Regions from separate parts of the Homo sapiens genome. Here all the other regions are linked to region 3. Evidence: fine-mapped QTL for protein levels in blood plasma. A gene starts in region 3. Each other region holds a variant in brackets. All regions are shown on one strand. Distances are from middle to middle.

Region 1 (6,140 bases), 63 kb after region 3:
GAGACTTGCCAGCTTTAGATTAGTCTCTAATAAGGCTTGGGGAAGTGCCCTATCTTAATGCCTGAATTTCACGATACACATCCGGATGGGCGTCAGTGTTGCCAGATTATTTAAGGAGTTCCCAGGACTAGTCTTACAGGATCCCATAGCTGACTGTCCTAGAAGAATATTATTCAATAATTTTTCCATCCCTGAGCTTAGGTGGCCAGCTGAAGCCTGTGAGTCCATCTACAACCAGGGTGAATAGGAGCCCCCTAATTTGGGCCACCAGGAGAACATGTTTTTAGTGTTCTAGTACCATTGGTATGAAAGAAAATGTTTTTAAGGATTATTTTATGCCTGATGGTTTGGGCAACTAATTGCTAACCATCTTTACTCCTTACTCTTCTGGACTTCACTTCCTCATCTATAACACTAGGGGCGAAACCAGTTGATATCAGTGGTCTCATTGGTATGGATGGTGACCATTGCAAGACTCACTCACTGACCAAATAGTCATCCCTCCTCCCTCACTCATTTCACAGGCTGATGTAGAAGCCTGATTGCAAAGCTGATGCCTCTGCATCCTCACCTTTTCTGCTTACTCTGTGGATGGGAGCTCAGCACTGAGACCCCTCTGGACTTGTGTCCCTACAGTCAAACGCTGTGGCAAACTCAATGCCCCAGAGAATGGTTACATGAAGTGCTCCAGCGACGGTGATAATTATGGAGCCACCTGTGAGTTCTCCTGCATCGGCGGCTATGAGCTCCAGGGTAGCCCTGCCCGAGTATGTCAATCCAACCTGGCTTGGTCTGGCACGGAGCCCACCTGTGCAGGTAGGTATGCCGCCCCTCCAGCCTGCAGCAGAACCTGTAAACCCCTTGGTTCTTGATTCCAGTGCAAGAGAGGTTTCCCTTCATATACTTTGAGAAGTTCATGGCCATCCCTCTTTATCTGAGTGGATGAACATAGTCCCTAGATCCCTGCTGCAGCTCATCTCATCTGCCATCCATCTTGCCCCTGCCTATCCTCTAATTTCCTTTTCATGTCCTCTAAGGAAGAAGCTCAAGGTAGGAACCTAGGGCCAGCCTTTGGTGACATTATGAATCAGCAAAATTTGCTCTAGTTTCCTTTGTTCTAGAAATGTAAGGATCTTATTTATAAAGCTAGTAAATTGCCATGTAGAGACAATATCATACCTGCTTTGCATCACTGGCATGAAAGTTACATAGACTTTGGGCATTTGGAATCTTTCCTCCTATGTAAAATGAAGAAAATAATACCTCATCTACCTCTTGAGTTGTAAGGATTAAATGAGGTCATCTGTGGAACAGTGGAATAGAGCAGTGCCTGGTACAGGCAAAGCCTTATGCCAGCTCTTATTCCTGATGAAGAAAAATTGGGCTGGGTAATGAGTCTGAAACTTGGACTAGCCAGAAAATTATGTATGTATCTCTTGTTTATAGACTTCTCTTTTTCTCATTTCCTGGCACCCTTTCATCTTTATCACTTTCTTTTAATTGAAGCCCCCATTTAGAGTTAAGTGACAGAGAGACATATATACCATCAGCTAAATGCCTGAGATTCTTCAATTTCATGTATTAAAGTAGAAAGAACACACCTATTATAGACTCCCTACCTAAGGACTTCATGCCCACCACCTATGAGGCTATTCTGAATTGAGATATGCTATAAGTGTAAAATATATACCAATTTCAAAATCTTAGTGTGAAAAAGAATATAAAGTATCTTAATTTTTTATATTGATTACATGTTGAAATGAAATATTTTGGATATATTGGGTTAGATAAAACATAAAATCATTTCTACCTATCTCTTTATATTTTTTATTTGTTTGTTTGTTTGTTTGTTTGAGATGTAGTCTCTCTCTGTCACCCAGGCTAGAGTGCAGTGGCGCGATCTCGGTTCACTGCAACCTCTGCCTCCCGGGTTCCAGTGATTCTCCTGCCCCAGCCTCCCGAGCAGCTGGGACTACAGGTGCCTGCCACCACGCCTGGCTAATTTTTTGTATTTTTAGTAAAGACGGGGTTTCACCATGTTAGCCAGGATGGTCTTGATCTCCTGACCTCGTGATCTGCACGCCTCGGCCTCCCAAAGTGCTGGGATTACAGATGTGAGACACTGCGCCCGGTCTCTTTACACTTTTTTAATGAGGCAACTAGAAAATTTAAGATTAAATATAGTGGCTTACATTGTATTTCTCTTGACCAGAGCTATCCTAGACTCTGAGTCCCTGGGGCAGGGAAGAGGGCAGGAAAGAGGGCAGGAACTGTGTATCACTCAGTGTGACATCCTAGTACCTAGCATAGAGCTTGGCACATGGCAGGCACTCAGTATATAATGGCTGAATGAATGAATGTGTGAATGAACAAATACTTCAATGCAAACCTAAAATGTGAAATATGAAAACCAAGATTATAAATCATACATGGCATCTACTAGTTTTTCTCTTATTATTTCTTCTCTGGGGCTAAGCCTTTTGCTTGCCTATCTATACGACATCCTTCATTGACCTTGAACAGCTGGAATTAGTTGTCATTTATTTGCTTAAAGGGAAGACCTATTATAAAACCGCCTTGTCCCATGTCCTGTTTGCCTGTGTTGTTTGCTCTG[T/A]GGCCTTTGTGCCCCACATTGCTTTGTCCCTTCTGCACCAAGGAGGCAGACTTCAGAGATTCTGAGCCATTCCAAAGCCAGCCTGGCCACTGCCCATTCTCTTACCCTTCTGCCTCTCTGCACCCCTTTCCCCAGCAGATACTATGGTGCTTGGCCCATATGCCTTTCACATTCCCATCTGTGTTCAAAAGGCTACTTACTGCAATTAACTGGGTCTGTCTGTCTGAGAGCATTTCTTTCCTGGCTATGAAAGCATTGTCAGCCCATGCACAGAGCCAGCTGGAAGTGATGGAGAGTTAGTGCCCCAGAAGCAGCCCTCAGCAATGATGGAGCAATTGTATAAATACTCCAGTTCCCTCCAGTGGGTTAATTCTGGAGGTATGTTGTATATCATCTCCTAGAGTTCCCCAGTGGGAGTGAGTTCCAAATGCCCACAGCAAAAACTTGCTTGATAACCAATTGGTATTGTTTTCTTTCCTTCACTGTCTCACTTCCTGACATAGACAGAATAATGGTCCACCAAAGATGTCCACATCCTAGTCCCTGGAACCTGAGAATATGTTACCTTACATGAAAAAAGGGACTTTACAGATGTAATAAGTTAAGGATTTTGAAATGGGAAGAGTATCCTGAATTACCCAGTGGGCCCAATGTAATCACAAGCCTTCTTATATAAAGGAGGCAGAACTGATGTCAGAGTCATAGAAAGAGACGATGGAAGGAGAGGTCAGAGAGAAGAGAGATTTGAAGATGCTACACTGCTGTCTTTGAAGATGGAGGAAGGGACTACTAGCCAAGGAATGAATGTGGCCTCTCGATGCTGAAAAAGACAAGAAATCAGATTCTCCCCTAGAACCTCCATGGGAGCATAGCCCTGCCAACACCTTGATTTTAGCTCCATGAGACCAGGATCTTTTAGATCCTGACCTGCAGTATCTAAAAGAATAAGTTTGTATTATGTTAAGTCACTAAGTTTATGGTGATTTGTTACAGCAGCAAGAGGAAGTGAATATACTTCCGTACTCCTCCACAGGCGCTTCTTGGGACTGCCTCCCAAATAAACTGTTTACACTTGAATCCTTATCTCAGGGTTTACTTCTTACACAAATGGTTCTGTGTGTCATCATAGGCTCTGTTGAGCCAGAACAAGTGGAAGGTTTCTGACCCATGTGGCCATTTCTGATTACAGCCATGAACGTCAATGTGGGTGTCAGAACGGCAGCTGCACTTCTGGATCAGTTTTATGAGAAAAGGAGACTCCTCATTGTGTCCACACCCACAGCCCGAAACCTCCTTTACCGGCTCCAGCTAGGAATGCTGCAGGTGAGTCCTCGAGGCAGGGCCAAGGTGAGAGGGAGACCTTTAACAGGAAGGGCCCAGCCATTTCACTAAAAGCAAAGGCCAGATTCAGTGCCTAATGCACTTACAGTGAGTTTCAGGAAGTGGCACTTTAGAGCTACCACCATTCATTTCTGGTTCTGGGCCATAACCTGATTAACATTGACTCCTTAGAGTTAACCCAATCGTTTTCCAACTAATGAGGTTTGTCTGTCTTCACCAATAAGTCTAATTGACATGCTGTCCAGGCCTAGCCACAGAACAATTGTCTTTGCCAAACCTGTCCAGGATATGCCTGGCTGGAAGCAATCAATTGGTTGCCTGCCCACATTTTTCCCCAGGGAATTTCTTTGACTCAGAGGGTGACAGCCATTTTTTCTTAGAAAAGTGGTTCTCAACGTGTGATCCATGGACCGGACCAGAAGCATCAGCATCACCTGGGAGCTTGATAGACATGCCAATTCTCAGGGCCCCTCCCAGACCTACTGTGTCAGAATCTACACTTTTAACAAAATCTCCAGGTGATTCCTAAGCACTCTAAAGTTTGAGGGTCACTTTTCTGGGAAATGTGTCCTTCTCAGCTATGTAAATTTTGTAGCTACTAAATGAGGCAACCAACATCTTGGGTGTGTGGGGAAGGCTGACTAGAAACTGTAAGGATCAAACTAGAAATTGCTTGCTTTTGTCCTGAGGCTGGTTTGCAAAAGAGTGGCCAACTTCACTGAATACTAAAGAGGCAGGATGTATGCTGTGCCATGGATACAGTGCTGCACATTTTTTTGAGACTATTTTATTCATTTATTACAGTGGATAGAACTAAGTGCTTAGAACAGTATTGATTTAATCAAAGGCTACAATTTACTTCTCATATCAGCATTAATAAAATGGATAATAATAAGTCTCTTTTCACTCTTCCCACGTACTTGAAGAATTGCCTATGAACTCTGAAGAGCCATATAAAATTTTTGTGAGTTCCCTTGATAGGAACCAAATTCATTGCATCTTTACCCCTGGTCCCCACCAGCTTACCTCCCCTTGTATCTCCTTGTCCAAGCCAGGGGCTTGCTCTTCAGAAAACACAAGCTTATACCTCTGTCTTTTGTGGGAAACTGGCATTGCAGGCTATATTCCATGATCATGCATTTCCTCATCTCTTCTTATTCCATAGGAAAATGAATTAAGCCAAACAACTTGCTTTTCCTCTGTGTCAGCAAACTATGGTGACCCATGGCTAGTTTCGGTAAATTAACTTTTATTGGACACAGCCACACTAATTCATTTGTGCATGATCTACAACTGCTTTTGCACTACAATGATGGGTGAAGTGGTTAGGACAGAGGCAATCCAACCTTGCCAAGCCTGAAGTACTCTCTGGCCCTTTACAGAGAAAGATTGCCATCGTTGCTCTAGTCTGTCCCATCCCTTCAGACACTTGCTAACTTAACAACTGGTTGGATAAGATATTTTATATCAAGATGTTTTGGTGTGCCCTCCTCCTCCAAATATACTTACATTTGCATTTTAACCAGAGCCTTCAAAGAAAGGTTTGATTGACTTAGGCATTTCAGTGAGAGTAATACAAAAGTCTATTTCTAACTTTTTAAACTTTTCAACCAGTTCTGTAACCTCATATAGGGACGTTTCAGTGGAATTTTGGTAAAACATATTTGATGTTTTCGTCTTTCAAGACTTCAAAATTTCTTTTCCCATTTAGCCAAATTCATCATATTTGTCTTACATTACTTTTTTTTTTTTTATTGCCATTGCCATTCCTGATGAGCCCTCCTCGTGGTTGACTGGGCCACATTCCCAAGGTTCTTGCCAAGAGCCAGCTTAGAGGCTTGGAACCTTTTATCCTCTTTTCCCCTGGGATTGGGTGTGGAGGGCATAGGGCAGGGGAGTGTGGAGAGTGGAAACAGGGCAGAGAAGTGGACTCTGGAAATAGTCTTCTCTCCTTGCAAAGAAAAATTAGAATCCTCTGGGGTGGTCTTGGATACTTTTTAGGAAATTTGACTCACTCAAGGTCTCACCCTGTCTGGAAATACATAGACTGCCCTTTTGCTTAGGTTTTCAAAATCCCACTGTCAAGCCATATCTGAATGATTCCTCTAGCAAAGGTATTTAGGTTTTATAGCCACTATCTTAACCCCAATTTCTCATCTGTTTTCAGGACAGTTCAGAGTGAGCA
Region 2 (8,290 bases), 43 kb after region 3:
TGCCTATCAGTGATCCCAAAGCCAGCTATCTCATTTCTTTGAAATTGTAGGCGCAGAAGGCAGTAAGGCCTAGTGAAAAAAGAATGATAGATTTGAAGGCCAGGCAGACAGGATTCGAATCCCTGATTTACCATTTACTGGCTGCATAACCTTGGACAAGTAAAGACGTTAGAGACTTGGTTTCCCTAATGATAAATCTAAAATAGTACCAAATGGCCAGTGTTATTGTATAGATTTAATGAGATAGTGCATAGAAATTGCCTAGCATAGTACACATATCATAGGCACTTAGTGTGTGTTATTTCCTTTCCCATGTGAATTCAATTGCACAGAAATCAGATTGCATTTAGCTTAGCAGATAGACCAATTCGGAAAAAGAGTAAGTTTGACTCCAGTAGGTTTTTTTTTTCTTTTTTCCTCCTTACTCATCTATGTTCACATAAAAGTCCCCTCTCTTATCTACAAAAGACTTGTGGGTAGAAAGCAGTGTGCCCTGTGTTAGGGTAGTGTCCAGTTACTAAGAGAAAGCTATAAAACCATATATTCATTTCTTAATTGGTTTGCTTAAATATCTGTTAGGTTTAATATAGGAAACAGAATCCTCTCTAGGTATTTTATGCAAAAAATGATTTAATGCAGGAAATAAGGTACTCACAAAATTGGAAGGGCTGGAGCAATGGAAGTCAAGAAGTCTGCATTAAAGGTCAAATGGCACCATGACTTCAGTCCAGATGCCAGAAACTCCTCCTATCACTCAGGCTAGGAAACTGTTGCTGCCGTGATTATCACCACTGCCAACGTCACTATCCTCCCTACCACACAAAGCTGATGAGGGGACAGTGGACACAGTTGACAACACTCACATCTGCTGTAGCCTATTTTCTGCATGCACAACTGTAGAAAAGAGTTCCTTCCCTTTGATTCCTTCCAAATCACTAAAAGTAGACCCTTTCACAACCTAGGGATAAGGGAATCTAGAAACTGTACTTTTCAACCCAATGCCAGGCTTTCTTCCGCCTTACCCATGTGAAAGCCCTCCTTATCTTACTAATCTGTGATTCCCCTGCTGGGCTATCTGCCCATGTGCATTCTCTCTTTGCCCCTGTTTTCCCTCTATGCCCTGTTTGGGCTCTGACATCCTGCTCTGGCCTACCATGCCTCCCTGTCCTTTCTGGTACAGATGTCTGCCTTGCTCTAAAGGCCTTAGAACTCAGTTGTTCAAGAAGAGAAGATTAGGAAAGGGTAAGAGGTCTCCTTGCTTTGTTAAAAATTACCGTACATATCTTTGTATTTCCCAACAATTTAGTGTTAGAAGTTTTTGAACTTTATAAAAAAGGAGTCGTATATATAGTATATAGTCTTCTGGGACCAACTTTGCTCACAATATTATTTTAGTTTTATTCATCCATATTGTTGTTCTCACACATGAGCTTTGCCATATTTTAAAATCTTAATGCATTTTTGCATTTTGGGGGTTATGCTTCTTTCTTTATTCATTCAGCATTCTATAATATTTTCCCATGTTAAGAAACCTCTTCAAAATGAACATTATTATGTTATGAATGGATCATAATATGATTGACCATTTCTTGTAGTTGGATATTTAAGTTAATTCCTATCTTAGAATGTGGTAGATGAAGAAGATAGAAGAAAAAAAGGCTGAGATTTTCCATGTGGCAGAGTAGCTGGAAGATGGTTATTTGCTGAAATGGGAAACACTGGGGGATGCACAAATTTGGTGATAAGAAAAGGAATCTGGTTTTGAGCAGGTTGAGTGTGAGTGTGGAGATATCCAGACAACAGTTGAAGATTCTAGCTTGGCTCTTAGGAGACAGTTCAAGGCTAGAAACAATGGATTTATCATCAGTACATGGGGAATGGTTTGAGGCAAGTATGGGAGTGAGATGGCCCAGGAAAATAGTCTGGAGATATGTAAAGGACCAATACTGGACTCCTGGGAAATACTTATGTCCAAATGGCAGGCTGATCTAGATGTGCTGTCCAGAGAGTCTGTTTAGAAAGGAGGAAGAAAATCGGGAAACTGTTGTCATTTGGAAGCCACTGCAGAAGAGAGCTTCATGAAATGAATGGGTAGTCATTCATACTAAATGCTGTAAATACTGTAGACAAGTTAACCAGGATGACAACCGAGGGCAAAATATATGTATGTGTGTATATGTGTGTTGGAGGGCTGGGCGGGGGGAGAAAGCTTGCTGCTCATGTATCTGGATTTTTTTTTAATTTGGATGATTGAAGGTTCACATGCAGACATGCAGTTCAACTGTTTCCTTGGGTAGATTCCTAGAAGTGGAATGACTTGATCAAAGGGTTTGAGCATAGGCCTTTGATTCATGTTGTTAGGTAGGTTTCCTGGTTTTCATTGTTTTTTGTTTTGTTTTGTTTTTGAGATGGGTTCTCACTATGTTATCCAGGCTGTTTTTTGAACTCCTGGGCTCAAGTAATTCTCCCACTCAGCCTCCCTAGTTTCTGAGATTACAGGCATGAGCCACTGTGTCTGGTTCCAGTGCTCATTTTTTTATATGCAATGATGAATAGTTTGTAATTTTGTACACATCTGGGTGTGCAGAGACAAGGTGAGGAAATCTGCAGCAAAGGAAAATACAGAATTGGGCTTCTGTAGTTGCGGGTCTTTTCCTAATGAACACAGTCCAGCCCTCATCTCCTCTCCACTTTCAGTTTCCACACTCTACATCTCTCATCCAGAACACAAGTGGAACAGGGACCATTACTCATTAGCTGCATGGGGATTTGAATAACCTCACAGTGGAGGATGTTCTTGTCTGTTATGGTGGCAAGTAACTACAACTAAATGCGTGACCAAGACAGAGCTAACTCGAGTCATTAATTAGACTGTGAAGTCTGGAGGGAAGTTCTCTGAATTTAAGATTACAGTTTTGAAGTTTGGCATCTGCTACCACTTCAAGGATTAAGGATTTACTGCTCACTGGAATTCAATATTTAATATTTTAAAAACCATTCAGCTCCAGCTTGCAAATGAGTTAAATTAAAATAATACACAGACGTTCTCTCTGAGGCCGTGGTTTTTATTGGTAGCAACGCTCATTAAGAAATTTTACTGGCTGGGCACGGTGGCTCACGCCTGTAATCCCAGCACTTTGTGAGGCCGAGGCGGGCAGATCATCTGAGGTCGGGAGTTCGCGACCAGCCTGACCAACATGGAGAAATCCCGTCTCTACTAAAAATACAAAATTAGCCAGGCATGGTGGCACATGCCTGTAATTCCAGCTATTCAGGAGGCCGAGGCAGGAGAATCCCTTGAACCCAAGAGGCGGAGGTTGCGGTGAGCCAAAATCACACCATTGCACTCCAGCCTAGCAACAGAGTGAGACTCCGTCTCAAAAAAAAAAAAAAAAAAAGAAATTTTACTTGAGCCATACGTTCATGAGAGGTTCTAAATAAGCACACAGATAGTCTATTTCAGCCTTCATTTCCTACAAATGCTGTATATAGAAGCAACTTTGTGTTTCTTTTGTCAAGATAAGACATTTGATTTACCTCCTTATCTTGCATTTAAATTTATTTCACAAGATGGACCTGTTTTCAGGTACCATAAACACCCAGTTCTACTGGGTTTTCTTTGACTGCTGGGGAAACTGTGGACTGTGTCTGATGCACACATTTTATTGCATCTCCCCTGGCATGAGATTCATATACATTGGCATCTTCTCAGAGTGAAGTTGACTCTCTCTGTTTCCCTATTCCAGAATTTCACTTGGCATATGGTGATTCCAAAACAGTTTGAGGCTCATTTTGCTTGGTTTTTGGCAATCTCAGCTCAGCCGGTTTCACTCTGAGAGATCTCCTGTTTGTTCCTTCATGAATGGCCACAGAAGCTTTTGCTCTTGGCTCTGCATTCTAATAGCACCTCCTGCATGGTCTGTGGCAAAGGAATGCTTTGAAATATGCGTCCATACTATGTGGCTTTTCTTGCTGCAGTTTCTGTTCTTTTTTATTGTAGGATCGGGAGACTCACCACTAGAAGACGATGAAGTCGGGTATTCACACCCTAGATATAAAGGTGAATGCTTTGCTTATGTGCTAATGAGGACCTGCTGGTGCCAGGAGAACTTTCCTTTTTGCCTTGTGAAACAGATTGTAATAAAGTGACCAGACAACACATTTAAGTTCTAATTATCTATCAAGGAAAAAAAAATATATATATATACTCCCTTTTTTAAAAAAGGAAATAAAGCAAAATGCATTGGAAATCTCTGAAATGCTGTCTTTCAGCATCCCAATGGTCATTTTATTCTCATAAGTTTCTTTACTGTCCTCACTTCTGCAAAGGCAGCTGTAGCTGATGAAAGTGAAAATCAAGCCTAATTCATACATTACAGCCAGAATCATCCAGAGTAAACCACCTAAGGTCAAATCTGGACCAAGTGCTGATAATGTACTAAGATGAATGGGGAAGGAGAAAACTTGATTTTCATAAGCTCATTTCATCGTGCTCTTTCTGAGCCCAGCATGGCTTCTGAAACGGTATGTTAAAGTATGTTGCTCAAATGAAACTTAATGATAAAGAACTCCATCTCTACATATTCCCAGCAATCCACTCCCCAGCACGTATAAAAAGCCTAAACAAGAACCTTCTGTCCAGACTCAGG[T/C]AAGTATGTCCACAAATATTTCTACTGGTGAAACATTTCTCTGAAGCTTAGGGAAACCTGGGAGAAATGAAGGTAAATTTAGAGATGCTTTCTCTCTGAATCTAGTTCCTCTTACAGTGGAGGAAGAATTTGAAAAAAAAAAAAAAATGGTTAACAAAGTTTCACTGCGGCATTTTGCCCTGGAAATTTGTCCTAATTCCTGGGATGAGGACATGGCCCTTGTTTGTTGTGATGTGTCTCAGATACAGGAGAATCAGGGTAGGACTGGACAACTTTTGACTGGAGATGTCCTTCAGTTGTTTTCTACACAAGTGAACAATATTTCCAATATAATGACTGGTGCCTGGTGCTTATGTGCAGGTGTGCTTCCCATCACATACCACATTTTTTTGTGAGATCTGAATGCAAATACTCATTCCTACCTATAGTTTCTATCTCCATAGCCTCAGGAATTAACCAATCAAGCAAAGCACAAATACGTTAATCAGATGCTTGGGGTAAGGAAAGGTTCTAATTCGCAAAACTTCTTAACTATTTATGGGTTTAGATTTTTTTTTCTTTGAGTCCCTTGTTGAAAAATCTTCCTAAAACACATGCATGCACAGATGACCCTTCACATCTACAGCAGGGGTTGCCTAGTGCCCTCAGGTCCTTGTTCTTCACATCCATCTTCACCTCACAGCATTGCAAATGTGACAGGTAGACCAGATGGCCAAAATGTGTGCTTGCCCTAGAACTTACCCTGAATGTTTAAGAATAAATTTTCTTAGGGCATTGTTTCTATTGTCAGTTAAATTGCTTACTGGTAGCAATCATTTCAGTATGTATAAGTATATCAAAGCATCATGTTGTGCGCTTCATACAATAAAATTTAAGTTTTATTTATTTTTATTATTATTTTTTGAGATGGAGTCTCACCCTGTCACCCAGGCTGTAGTGCAGTGGCGTGATCTTGGCTCACTGTAACATCCGCCTCCCAGGTTCAAGCGATTCTCCTATCTTAGCCTCCCAGGTAGCTGGGACTACAGGCACACGCCACCACACCCAGCTAATGTTGCATTTTTAGTACAGACAGGGGTTTCACTATGTTGGCCAGGCTGGTCTCGAACTCCTAACCTCAGGTGATCCACCCACCTTGGCCTCCCAAAGTGCTGGGATTACAGGCGTGAGCCACTGCACCTGGCCAAGTTTTTTTAATTTTAAAAGCTAGAGACAAGCCATTATTAAGTGAGGGTTTAGTTTTAGATCCTGAGGCCCCTGCACAATGTCCAGCACAGAGTAAGTGTTTTTGAATTAAAGTAAAATAAGAAAGAAAATTAAATGTAACCAACATTTACGGTGCTCCTGGTATGTGGCAAGCATGGCTTTTGATTCTTTTGCTTGGAATACCATCATATATTCATATTAATTGAGTGAGTTTGTGATGTATGAGTATGCAGGTCATATATATACATACATTAGTTCCCCCTTATCTGCGGTTTCACTTTCCAAGGTTCCATTTACCTTCAGTCAACCGCAGCCCCAAAATATTAGATATTTTGAGAGAGAGACAGTACATTCACCTAACTTTCATTACAGTATATTGTTATAATTGTTCTATATTATTATTAGTTGTTGTTAATCTTTTATCATGCCTAATTTATAAATTAAACTTCATCATAGGTATGTTTGTGTAAGAAACAAACAGTATATATAGCGTTAGGTACTATCCAAGGCTTCAGGCATCCAATATCCCCCGTGGGCAAAGGGGGAGTACTGTATATCACAAATATATGTAGTACATACAGATTATATTAAAACCCTTAGAGGAAGGAAAATTTATTCAAGGAAGTTCTTTAGGCCTTGTGTGAGCTCCTACACGTTTATATCCACATGGTTAAATTTAATCAGCTCTAGGTTAAGCCTTTAGGACATCACCTTTACCTAGAAAGTCCAGGGAAGATTACTTGAGTCTTGAGTTTAGGGCTCACTTGCAGCTGTCTGCAAAACATGATATGACGAAAGTATTAGCCAGACCAGGGACGGTGGTGCGTGCCTGTAGTTCCAGCTACTTGGGAAGCTGAGACAGGAGGATCACTTGAGCCTAGGAGGCCGAGACTGCAGTGAGCAATGATCATGCCACTACACTCCAGCCTGGGTGACAGAGTGAGACCCTGTTTCTAAAAAAGAAAAAAAAAAGAGAAAGTATTAGCTGAAGGAAATGTGAAGGCAAAACTAAAACAGTGGTCTATGCATAAGACGTGGCCAGAACTGTTGGTTTTTGTAACTGAGAAGCAGTTGGAGGCATATCCTCAGAAGAGAATTCCTGGGAAAGTAAAACAGGGTCTGTCCTCCTTCCTGGCCACATGATGGCGGTCTTACCTCACTCACTGACAGCTCAGGTGCTGGGTTGGAGTGATGAGCCAGGCAGTTGCAGGGAAGTGGCTCCTATTCATGGCATTGAGAGCCCGGCAGGCTTTAGGGAACTCCTCACTGTTCCCCATCAATTGTGGGACAATGGGGCAGTGGCTGCTGTAGGAACTTATCCACCAAGGAGCTAGTGTTGCCCTTATATTTTATGGATCTCAAAGAGAACATTTCAAAAGCACAGCAGGGAGGTTCTGATTTATTCATTTCATCCCAGCTGTGCTTTGGGCAACTATGAGACCAAAATCAAAACACCTGCAACTTTGCCATCTGGGGAGGGTGTCACCCTGTTACGTAAATGGGGCATAACTGGGGACACTTCTCTATGGAGAGCAATTGTTCTGTGACTTTAAGCGAAATTTATATCTTGTTACAAACACCTGGAAATTGTAGCATCATTTAGATTAATGCCAGTATTACAACATTTTAGAGAGAATGTGCATACGGCTCAGACGAAATCCAAATTAACCAATTATTGAATCCCTACCGCTATGTATGACATCAGTTGCCCTTGAAAGAATTATCTAAAAAATAAAAATAAAAAATCTTATGTATCTAGTTAAGGGAAATACTAAAAAGAACAAGCATTTATTGAACATATATGCTAGGTACTGTGCTAGATGCTTGATATGCAATTTTTATTTCGTCCTTGTAACAGCACTATGGCATAAGTATAGATATTGACTCAGAGAGGTTAGCTAACTTGTCTAAGATCACACAGTCAGTTATAGAGGAACTCAGATTCATGTTCAGATATATCTGACACTTAGTCCCATGATCATAACCTCCCTACCCGGAGACACCTAAGAAAACATGGGGCACTAATTGAAGGTCCAAAATTTGGAATGTAGCCAGCCTGGGACAGTAAGAGTAAGGGGACACATTTTCTGAAAGTGTCATTTCATATTTATCTCCTCTTTTGTTTCTGCTACTTGTAGATACCCCGTGGTGCTCCCCCATCAAGGTGAAGTATGGGGATGTGTACTGCAGGGCCCCTCAAGGAGGATACTACAAAACAGCCCTGGGAACCAGGTGCGACATTCGCTGCCAGAAGGGCTACGAGCTGCATGGCTCTTCCCTACTGATCTGCCAGTCAAACAAACGATGGTCTGACAAGGTCATCTGCAAACGTGAGTAGGCCAGCTCTGTGTTGGGTCCTCAGGGATGACCAGAGCCAAAGTTCTTTTGCTCTGAGATTGAGGATTTTCACTGAATATTGATGAGAAAAATTCTCC
Region 3 (8,290 bases):
TCCTCCTGCCAGACTTTGATGTCTGTGTTCTCTTCTTCTCACCTCTGGTACTTTGCCCAGTACTCAGGAATGCTTCAGATGACAAGACAGACACTGTCTGCATGCACCTGAGGTGCCTTGGAGACTTAGCTTATAGGCAAATAGATTGCACTGTCGTAGGTTGTACTGTGAAGCCACTACTGGCAACTCCTACTCTGTATCGGTGTGATTTTTTTTTTTAAGAAAACATTTTCAATGATCTGTTTAATTTAAATAAGAAATATCATTACATGCTTACATATTTAAACAGTACAAAGGATTGTACAGTAATAAAAAATTATTTCTCCTACTGACTTCCCCATACCCTGATACAGTATCATGCCTTCCCCATACCACAAATGGTAGCAAGATATGTGTATTATTTTGCTTGTTATTTCATTAAACAAAATATGTGAGACTACCTTTCCTACTGATGCATATGCATCTTGTTCATTCTTTTTAATGGCCACATAGTATTTCGTTACATAGGTATGCATAATTAATAAAATAATTCCCCATTAATGGATATTTACATTTACAAAAATGTCACCAACCTTTTGTTACTATGAGCAATGCTGAATAAAACCTTATAAACACTTCTTTGCACAGATGAGCCTGATGCAGTGGGGAGACTACTTGGCTTTCTAGTGATTCTTAGATTCTTCATGTGTGATTGGTTTTTGAGATCTAACATAGGACATCATATTTATCCTTGCTGTCTTTTAATGTTTCAATACAGCATGCCTGCCTAGAGAGATGTTTGGAATCTGTTTCTTGCCCTCCTATCTTCATGTCCTTTGCCAAAAATATCTTTTTCTAGTTCATAAATAGTAACATCAAGCAGGATAGGAATGGTGTCATAGCTCTGTGGCACTCCCTGAGTGACTTCTCTTTGTTTTCATCAACTCATTAACCCTTAAGTTATTTGACAGATTATGAATCTATTTAACTATCTGATTGTCTTCCAAGATATTGTGGGATTGGGATGAATTGACAACCTCTTCCTCTACCTTACCTCTACCCTCATCTCTTCTATCAGAGAGAAAACTGGAATAAAAATAATAAGAAAAATAAAAGTCCCATTGGAATTTTCTCTATAGGGTAGAAAAGAGAGCAAGAGACTTTTTTTCCTCATTCCAGGCTCTTATTTTATTTTTTCATGTTCATATTAGTTCTTCCAAGGGTTTATATCGAATACTTCAAGCTTGTCAAGGAAAAATAATGGTTTCCCAATATTATATCTAATTGTGTTCCCTATTACTCTAACCCACGTGATTTATATACCTTATACATTTTGACAACAATGGCATTCCTTTTAGTATTCCCACTAGGTAAGAATACCACCTTGTTCTCTCCCCTTTATCTTTGTTAGGTAAAAATGAAAGGGTTATTTCGATTTATTGATACAAGAGGCAACTGAACTTGGATCTGTCCTTCAAGATATCCTTGCACAATGAAAACAACAAATGTTATTTTTCTCTGTAAACATTATATAGAGATGTTTCTTCAAGTCTTTTATTTTTGTTTATTTTTTTAATGGACACATTGTAAATGTACATATTTATGGGACCCCCATATCTACAAAAAACACTTAGCTGGCCATGGTGGCACATGCTTGTAGTCCTAGCTACTCAGGAAGCTGAGGCAGGAGAATTGCTTGAGCACAGGTGTTTGAGGCTGCAATGAGCTATGATCATGCCACTGCACTCCAGCCAGGAAACAGCACTCCTTCTGGATAAACAAATTCAAATTCAGAATAAGACCCTGTCAAAGAAAAAAAAAAAAAAGAAAGAAAGAAAAGAAAAAGAAAAAGAAAAAATCAAGTCAGTATTTTTTTTTTTGAGATGGAGTCTAGCTCTGTTGCCCAGTCTGGAGTGCAGTGGCACAACCTCTGCCTCCCAGGTTCAAGTGATTCTCCTGCCTTGGCCTCCCGAGTAGCTGGGACTACAGGTGTGTGCCACCACTCCCGGCTAATTTTTGTATTTTTAGTAGAGATGGGGTTTCACTATATTGGCCAGGCTGGTCTCAAACTCTTGACCTCAAGTGATCCGCCTACCTTGGCCTCCCAAAGTGCTGGGATTACAATCATGAGCCACTGCACCAAGCGTCAAGTCAGTATTTTGCGTGACCATCACCTCATCCATTTCTGATTTCTTTCTTTGTGGTGAGGACATTCAAAGGCCAGAGAGCAAGTCAACAGTAAGTGTGGTGTTTCTTGTAATCCAGCCAGAATCAGTGGATAGAAGTGAGCTAGAAGTTCCTTCTCAGCCCAGTAATAGAATGTATACTGGTTGTGGTGAAGACACATTGCTTCAGAGGTGACATAGGAAAGGAAGGCTGCTGGCCAGGCTATCCTGGACCTGGAATTTGGGGTGCACATTAACCCTTGTTTACAGACCTAAAGAAGTAGTTCTCTATTGGGGGCATTTTTCCCCTGGGGGACATTTGGCAATGTCTGGAGACATTTTTTTGGCTGCCATAACTGGGGAAAGGGGGATTGCTAGTGGTATCTGTTGCATAGAGGCCATCGATGCATCTCTCAACGTGCAAGGCAGTCCCCCTCCCCAAGAAAGAATCATCTAGCCCCAAATATCAATAGTGCCCAAGTTGAGAAACTCCTGGTCTAGAATTTTTATCCTATACTAAAACTTATACCGTGGAGCTTAGCGGATTGGGGAGAGACAAAAATATGCATCTGGTCAAACTCCAGGTCACATTCCTAAAGATTCTGATTTTATTAGTGTGAGGTAGAGCCTGGATATGGTATTTTCATGAAGCTCCCCAGGTGACCCACATAAACAAGGTTGAGAATGACTCCCTGGAAAGTCTGGTCTGATGGAGGCCACAGAATAGACTGACCTCCCCCATTTCCTTGCGACTAGGGGGTTATTTAAGGGTTGTTGGTTCCCTGAAGAGGTAGCAGCAGTGGAGAAACCCACAGGAGATGGAGCGAAGTCCCCCCAAGTGCTAGAGAGGGTAAGATGGACGTTCAAGTCTGGGGCTTTTGTGAGAATTGGGAAATGGCACTCCTTCTGGATAAACAAATTCAGAACTTCTAGGTGAGTGCCCCCAGGGCTCTTAGCCTAGCTATCAGACCAGACTACTGTGGCAGAGAGAAAGATGCCCTTCTAGTGGATGTGGCCCCTGCCAAGACGCAAAGCTCCCTGAACCCAAAGGCATTTGGATTTTGGCTCCCACTTGCCCCTTCCTCTGGATGCCTTTGTACAGTGCCCAAACTGCACAACCTAATGCAGCAACTCCAACTAAAATTTGCCTTAGCTAAGATCTTTCTGAGACAGCAAAGGGGCAACGTATTGCCTTACTGATTTAACAAGAACTAAACAACCAAAACAACAAACAAACAAACAAAACTATGAGAGGCTTACTCAAATGCCTCAAAGAAACCAGATCCGTCCTGCGGGCAGCCTAGAAACCCTGTCCTGATGCCAGGATCCAGCGATGCCAAGCCACAGGGAAGAGGCTCCAGTCTGGTCGTGGTATCTTTGGGGTGGTTGAGAACAACCCAGGAAATGAGGAAATCTGGCTGCAGGAACCTACAGCTGGATCCCCATGGCTGTGGGTGAGACAGAGAACTTTCTGTGCCTTGTGCTCTCCCATCAGCTGATCCTGGAAGGAGAACCTCAAGCCCCATCCTAAACCGCAGCAGAGCAGGCACGCACCCGGTCCAGTCCTTGATTTATTCCTTTGCAAAAGAGAAACAAACTAACAAAAAATCTGTAGTATGGACTTTGACGTCGGCAGAACTACACACCTAAGTTCCAGTCCCTGCTCTGCCAGTAACGGGGGTGAATCTGGGCAAGTTTCTAAGCGTCGGTGTCTTATTGGAGAAAGTGGACATGGTAATAGCGAACTTGGGGCATGGTCGTGAGGATCAAAACAGAGAACATGGCCATAGTATCCGGCCGCAGTGGGCCACTCTGAATCCCCTCGGTTGCCCCTTCTGTTTCCGTGTGACTCACGCAGCTTTCTGCACAGATGGTATCCTTCTAGACGTCTGGGATGTTCGAGGCGGTTGTATTGAATACCGTGTGTGTATTCCGGGTGAGGGGGCGCGCAAATTGGGGCAAAGAAAGCTACTTCAGGATATTTCGCTCTGCTGGGGCTTGTCTCCAGCGCTCTCTGGCCAGAAAAAGCGCTGGCACAAAAGGAGGAGGTGGGTGGGTCAGAGCCCCGAACCGCGCAGTGTTCCAGGGGGGGCGGAGAAAGGAGGGCAGGCCCCAGGCAGGAAGGAGGGAGGGAAAGAGGCGAGAGGAGGAGTTTTCCAGCCCGGCCTTCGCCCGCCCGCTAGCACGCAGTCCCTTGGTCTCTTCGGTCTCCTGCCGCCCCCGGGAAGCGCGCTGCGCTGCCGAGGCGAGCTAAGCGCCCGCTCGCCATGGGGAGCCCCGCACATCGGCCCGCGCTGCTGCTGCTGCTGCCGCCTCTGCTGCTGCTGCTGCTGCTGCGCGTCCCGCCCAGCCGCAGCTTCCCAGGTAGGATCGGAGGCGTGGCTGCCTCCTCAGCTGGGCACCAAAGACCCCCGGAGTCGCCGTTGGGACCCTTCGCTCGGGATAGAGGGAGGTGCCGGGGGCGCCCTTTGTTTGCGCAGAACTCCTCTTTCGCAGCCCGAGGGTGGGGATGATGCGGATCGGGGCTGGTGTCTGGGCACGCGCCGGGAAGAACTGACCATCCCATCTCCAGGCGCGGGGCGCCCTCGCGGCGACGGGAGCCCTAGCACCTTCTGCGTCCGGGCTTCCAGAGTTCCAATCAAACCCTTTTCGGTGTAGGAGGCTCCACAGAGAAAGTTTGGCCGCAGACTAGTTTGCTACTTTCTCACCCCCAGAATTTTGCCTCTCACATGGTTGCCCACTGGAGGCTGGCAGCTTGTCCTGGAAGGAGCCTCTATGCCCTCCCACTACACGTCCCAGGCTACCCCCTTGGGGCCGCAGGACACGAGCCACGGTAAAGCGACTTTTGTGGAAGGCACGGGCGGGGCCTCCCCTGAATCTCTTAACCCCCCCTGCTGGGGATTCCGAGAAAGTCTGCGCCTCTGAGGAAGAATTGCCAGCTGAGAGTGGTGACATGTGGCATGCACTTGATTAGCCCCAGGGAAAGAGGGCTACTCGCGCAAGGATCTGCTGGGCAGAGGGTGCGGCTTATTCCTGGAGGGCGTGGTCTCCGGCATCTAAGGGGGCCCTGGTGTTTCTTGGGGGCTCTCATGGTGTGAGCAAAATTCTCTTTGGAGATGCACTTTAAAAAGCTCCAGCTAACTTCCTCACCCTGGAGTCTTAGGTTAGCGAAGAGCTTCAGGGGAGTAGGGCAATGTGCCATGCACTCCTGTTGCCTCGGAATGGAGAGGAAATCCATGGATGCGTTTTAATTTAGTGTTAATGGGAAAGTGGGTGACGTCGGCTATAGGGCGTGCAAATATTTGGCTCTGCGTTCAACACCGTGGGCAGCTTAAATCTAGGGTATGAGAAATGAACCTACTGAGTTCTGGTAGAAGGATAGAGGATGCCCATCTTTCTAGCAGTGTGCTTGGGAGATGTAGGGATGGCTGCGGGAAATTCTCTGCACGCACCTAAATAAATGAATGAATAGAACAAATTTGTAAATTAATAAACAGGAACATTTGTGTTTTGAGCTGACTCTTAAGTTTTAAGCTGCTTTGTAGGAACTGATTCAGGGTAAAGTGGAAAGGAAATTTTATCCTTACTGCCAGGCAACTGTTATTCCCATGGTGTGTTAATACCTCCTCTCCCACCCCCTTTAGCAGGAATCAGGTTAAAATGAACCTGTAGGGGAAGAGGAAGTCATTAAGCGTCCCAGAAGCAGCTTTCTGGGAGCGGGCAAATAAGGTGAGAAGCTAGAGGTAGCTTTTCCGCACTGAGTTGGGAGGTGCCTGTGAGCTGCCTGGGAACCTCAACTTTTAGTTGAGCCTTTCTCAAGCTGGGGACCCCTTCTCCTTTTCCATCCGACCTCCCTCCGTTCTCCTCCCCTGCCCTCCCCTCTCCTTTCTCTCATCTTCCACCTTTATATAGTACAGCTTGCTACCAGGGCCCAGCCACAGAATCATGAGTTCGCCAGTTTGGGCATTCACTACCACCTGTCTTTTGGGACCTATCCCTGGCTTTCCTGGCTCCCTCTGCCAGCCTGCAAGCTGCTCCCAACTTTTAGCCACCATGTTCCTGCTTGCCACCACCTCCACTGACTCCTAACCTGCCCTCCGGCTCTGCTCAGACCACAAATGAGCTGAAGCTGATTGGAGCTGCTTGATAAACACTCCTCTTGAGCCTCCTTTTGGCATGGCTCAATGGGGTCTCTTGGGAAGTGTGCTCCGCTGAGGTTGTGAGATCCAGAGGAGGGGATTTCAGTCCAAGCCAGAGGCTTTGGAAGGCTGGGGAGGGGAAAATCTCTAGGCCCTTGGGTCTGAAAGCAAATCACATAGGCTGAGTTCACTCTAAGTGCTGGGTGACAAATTTTAAAGATCATTTCAGAGACACTCTCTTAGCAAGTGGACATCATATCTTCAGTAAGAGAGAAAGTGAAGGACTTGAATCTGGAACTTCTGAAAGAAGATGGAGATCTAGGGCTCCATCAGCAAGTCGATTATGTAACTATCTGCACGTGAATAGCACATCTGTCAGAGTGAGAGTAAATCATTCTCATTCCCACTCCTAGAAGGTCTCTGGAGTTCTTCCATCTTAGAATTTAATGCAGCTTTTCTGGCTCTCTGATCTATTTTTTGCAGCCTAGCAAAGATGCAGTGTCTATAAAAACCTACATGAAGTGTATGGAAAATTTGTAGAAAAGTTGTTTGTGTTTGACTGTGTTTGTATGCTTATAACAGATGAGAATTTAGATTCTGTTCTTAAAATAATTCTTAGAGCTGTATTTGCATGTGAGATAGTGGTGGTTCACTCTGCCTCCTTCTGCAAACAAGGCTGAAGATGGAGAATGAGTACCATGGCCTCTAAGAAAGGCTTCGTGAATCTTACATCTGGAGAAAACTGGTAAAGTAGCGTGGTTTTACTAGTCAGGAAAACCAAGTGAGGTTTGCTAAAAGCCAAACCAGACTACATCAGCTGAAGCAGTCTTTTGAAATACCACATTTGGAGATAAGTACTAGGAATGGAGCACCTAGCTCAGGTTATATAATTAAGGTGTCACCGGGAACAGGCTAGGAATTCCTATTTAGATTTAAAACATGTAATCAGCTGACAAAAGTACTCTGCAATGAAAAGGAAATATGCTGGGGAGAGCAGGTCATTTTCCTCTGGCATTTTCTTCATTGATAACACTTTCAGTACAGTACAATGTTGTTTGTTAGTTACTACTCATTTCGCAGATTTGGGAGCTGAATGAGACACCAGAAACCATTGTTAAAGCAGCGTCTTCACATCTTCCCACCTCATCAGTCCTCGTACCATAACCAAAGTGCTGCTTTTCTCTTTTAGATTATTGCTATAACATTCTCACTTTTGGTCTCTCTAATTCTAGCTCATTTTACTTTCTCACTTTAGATAATGGTCTTTTAAGTCCATTGACTTTAGTACTGTTTTTTATCACATCACTCCCTTACTCAAAAACTTAGGGCAGCAGGTCCCTGTTCTCACTCAAGTAAAAAGTTCTCAGTTGTTTTTAGGGGGCTACACAGTTTGCTTCTAGCCTAATTTTCCAGTCTTTTCCCCCTGGTTTCCTAAAATCCTATCCTTATAGAACCTGAGTCACATTTTCCTTCTTGGCAGATGCTGCTTTCTGTACCTGGAATCCTTCCCCCTTGCCATTTGTCCAAATTCTGCCCATCATCCAGCAACACCCCCACTTTGATGAGACCTTTTCTTGATCGCTCCAATGGGAAGCAACGTGCCTTCCTTTTAACACCCATGGTCTCACTCATGTCTCTTATATTTATCACATATATCACATATTTGATAATGCTGTATATTATCATAATTTATGCACTCTTCTTCTTGTAGATTTTAAGACCTTGGAGGCAGGGGCCGTGCTATGTCTTACCCTTATTTGTATTTCCCACGGTGCCTAGCAGAGCACTTTGTGCCACATGGATATTTGTGCGTAATGGATTAACAGTGCCTGTAACTCCAGTGATGGGCCATTGGACAGGAAAGGAGCTGAGGGAAACATGTGCACAGGTACACAGGGCTTTGTGCCACCATGAATCTACATACATAGAAACGATGGCTTACTGGATACAGAGGTTCCTTTTAAATATACGAACACTCTCTGTTTAAGCAATAACCTTCTCTGTTGG

Which allele goes with the higher level. Alleles are on the strand shown, and positions count from the first base shown. The strength of an association depends on the size of the effect and on how common the allele is.
In carriers of allele T in region 1, the plasma level of the protein whose gene starts at base 4,333 in region 3 tends to be lower than with A alone (moderate association).
In carriers of allele T in region 2, the plasma level of the protein whose gene starts at base 4,333 in region 3 tends to be lower than with C alone (weak association).

Evidence for each region. PIP is the chance, under the fine-mapping model, that this variant and not a neighbour inherited with it causes the effect. The UK Biobank Pharma Proteomics Project read protein levels with antibody pairs (Olink). The fine-mapping took linkage between variants from a reference panel, not from the people measured, so its PIPs are less certain.
Region 1: its variant is fine-mapped to the plasma level of the SRPX protein (UK Biobank, PIP above 0.99).
Region 2: its variant is fine-mapped to the plasma level of the SRPX protein (UK Biobank, PIP above 0.99).

What each region holds. Positions count from the first base shown.
Region 1 is chrX:38,154,693-38,160,832 of GRCh38, reverse strand. It overlaps SRPX (sushi repeat containing protein X-linked), which reads left to right. Exons shown (of 10, transcript NM_006307.5): 7 at 637-816; 8 at 3,804-3,937. Among named protein-coding and RNA genes, the nearest start is that of SRPX, 63 kb to the left of the region's middle. The variant T/A (reference allele first, on the strand shown) is at 2,615.
Region 2 is chrX:38,174,055-38,182,344 of GRCh38, reverse strand. SRPX (sushi repeat containing protein X-linked) reads left to right here. Exons shown (of 10, transcript NM_006307.5): 2 at 4,001-4,060; 3 at 7,994-8,185. Among named protein-coding and RNA genes, the nearest start is that of SRPX, 43 kb to the left of the region's middle. The variant T/C (reference allele first, on the strand shown) is at 4,650.
Region 3 is chrX:38,216,914-38,225,203 of GRCh38, reverse strand. It overlaps SRPX (sushi repeat containing protein X-linked), which reads left to right and starts at 4,333. Exons shown (of 10, transcript NM_006307.5): 1 at 4,333-4,508. The coding sequence starts at 4,412. It overlaps LOC124905176 (a long non-coding RNA gene), which reads right to left and starts at 4,296. Exons shown (of 2, transcript XR_007068212.1): 1 at 3,405-4,296; 2 at 1,512-1,782.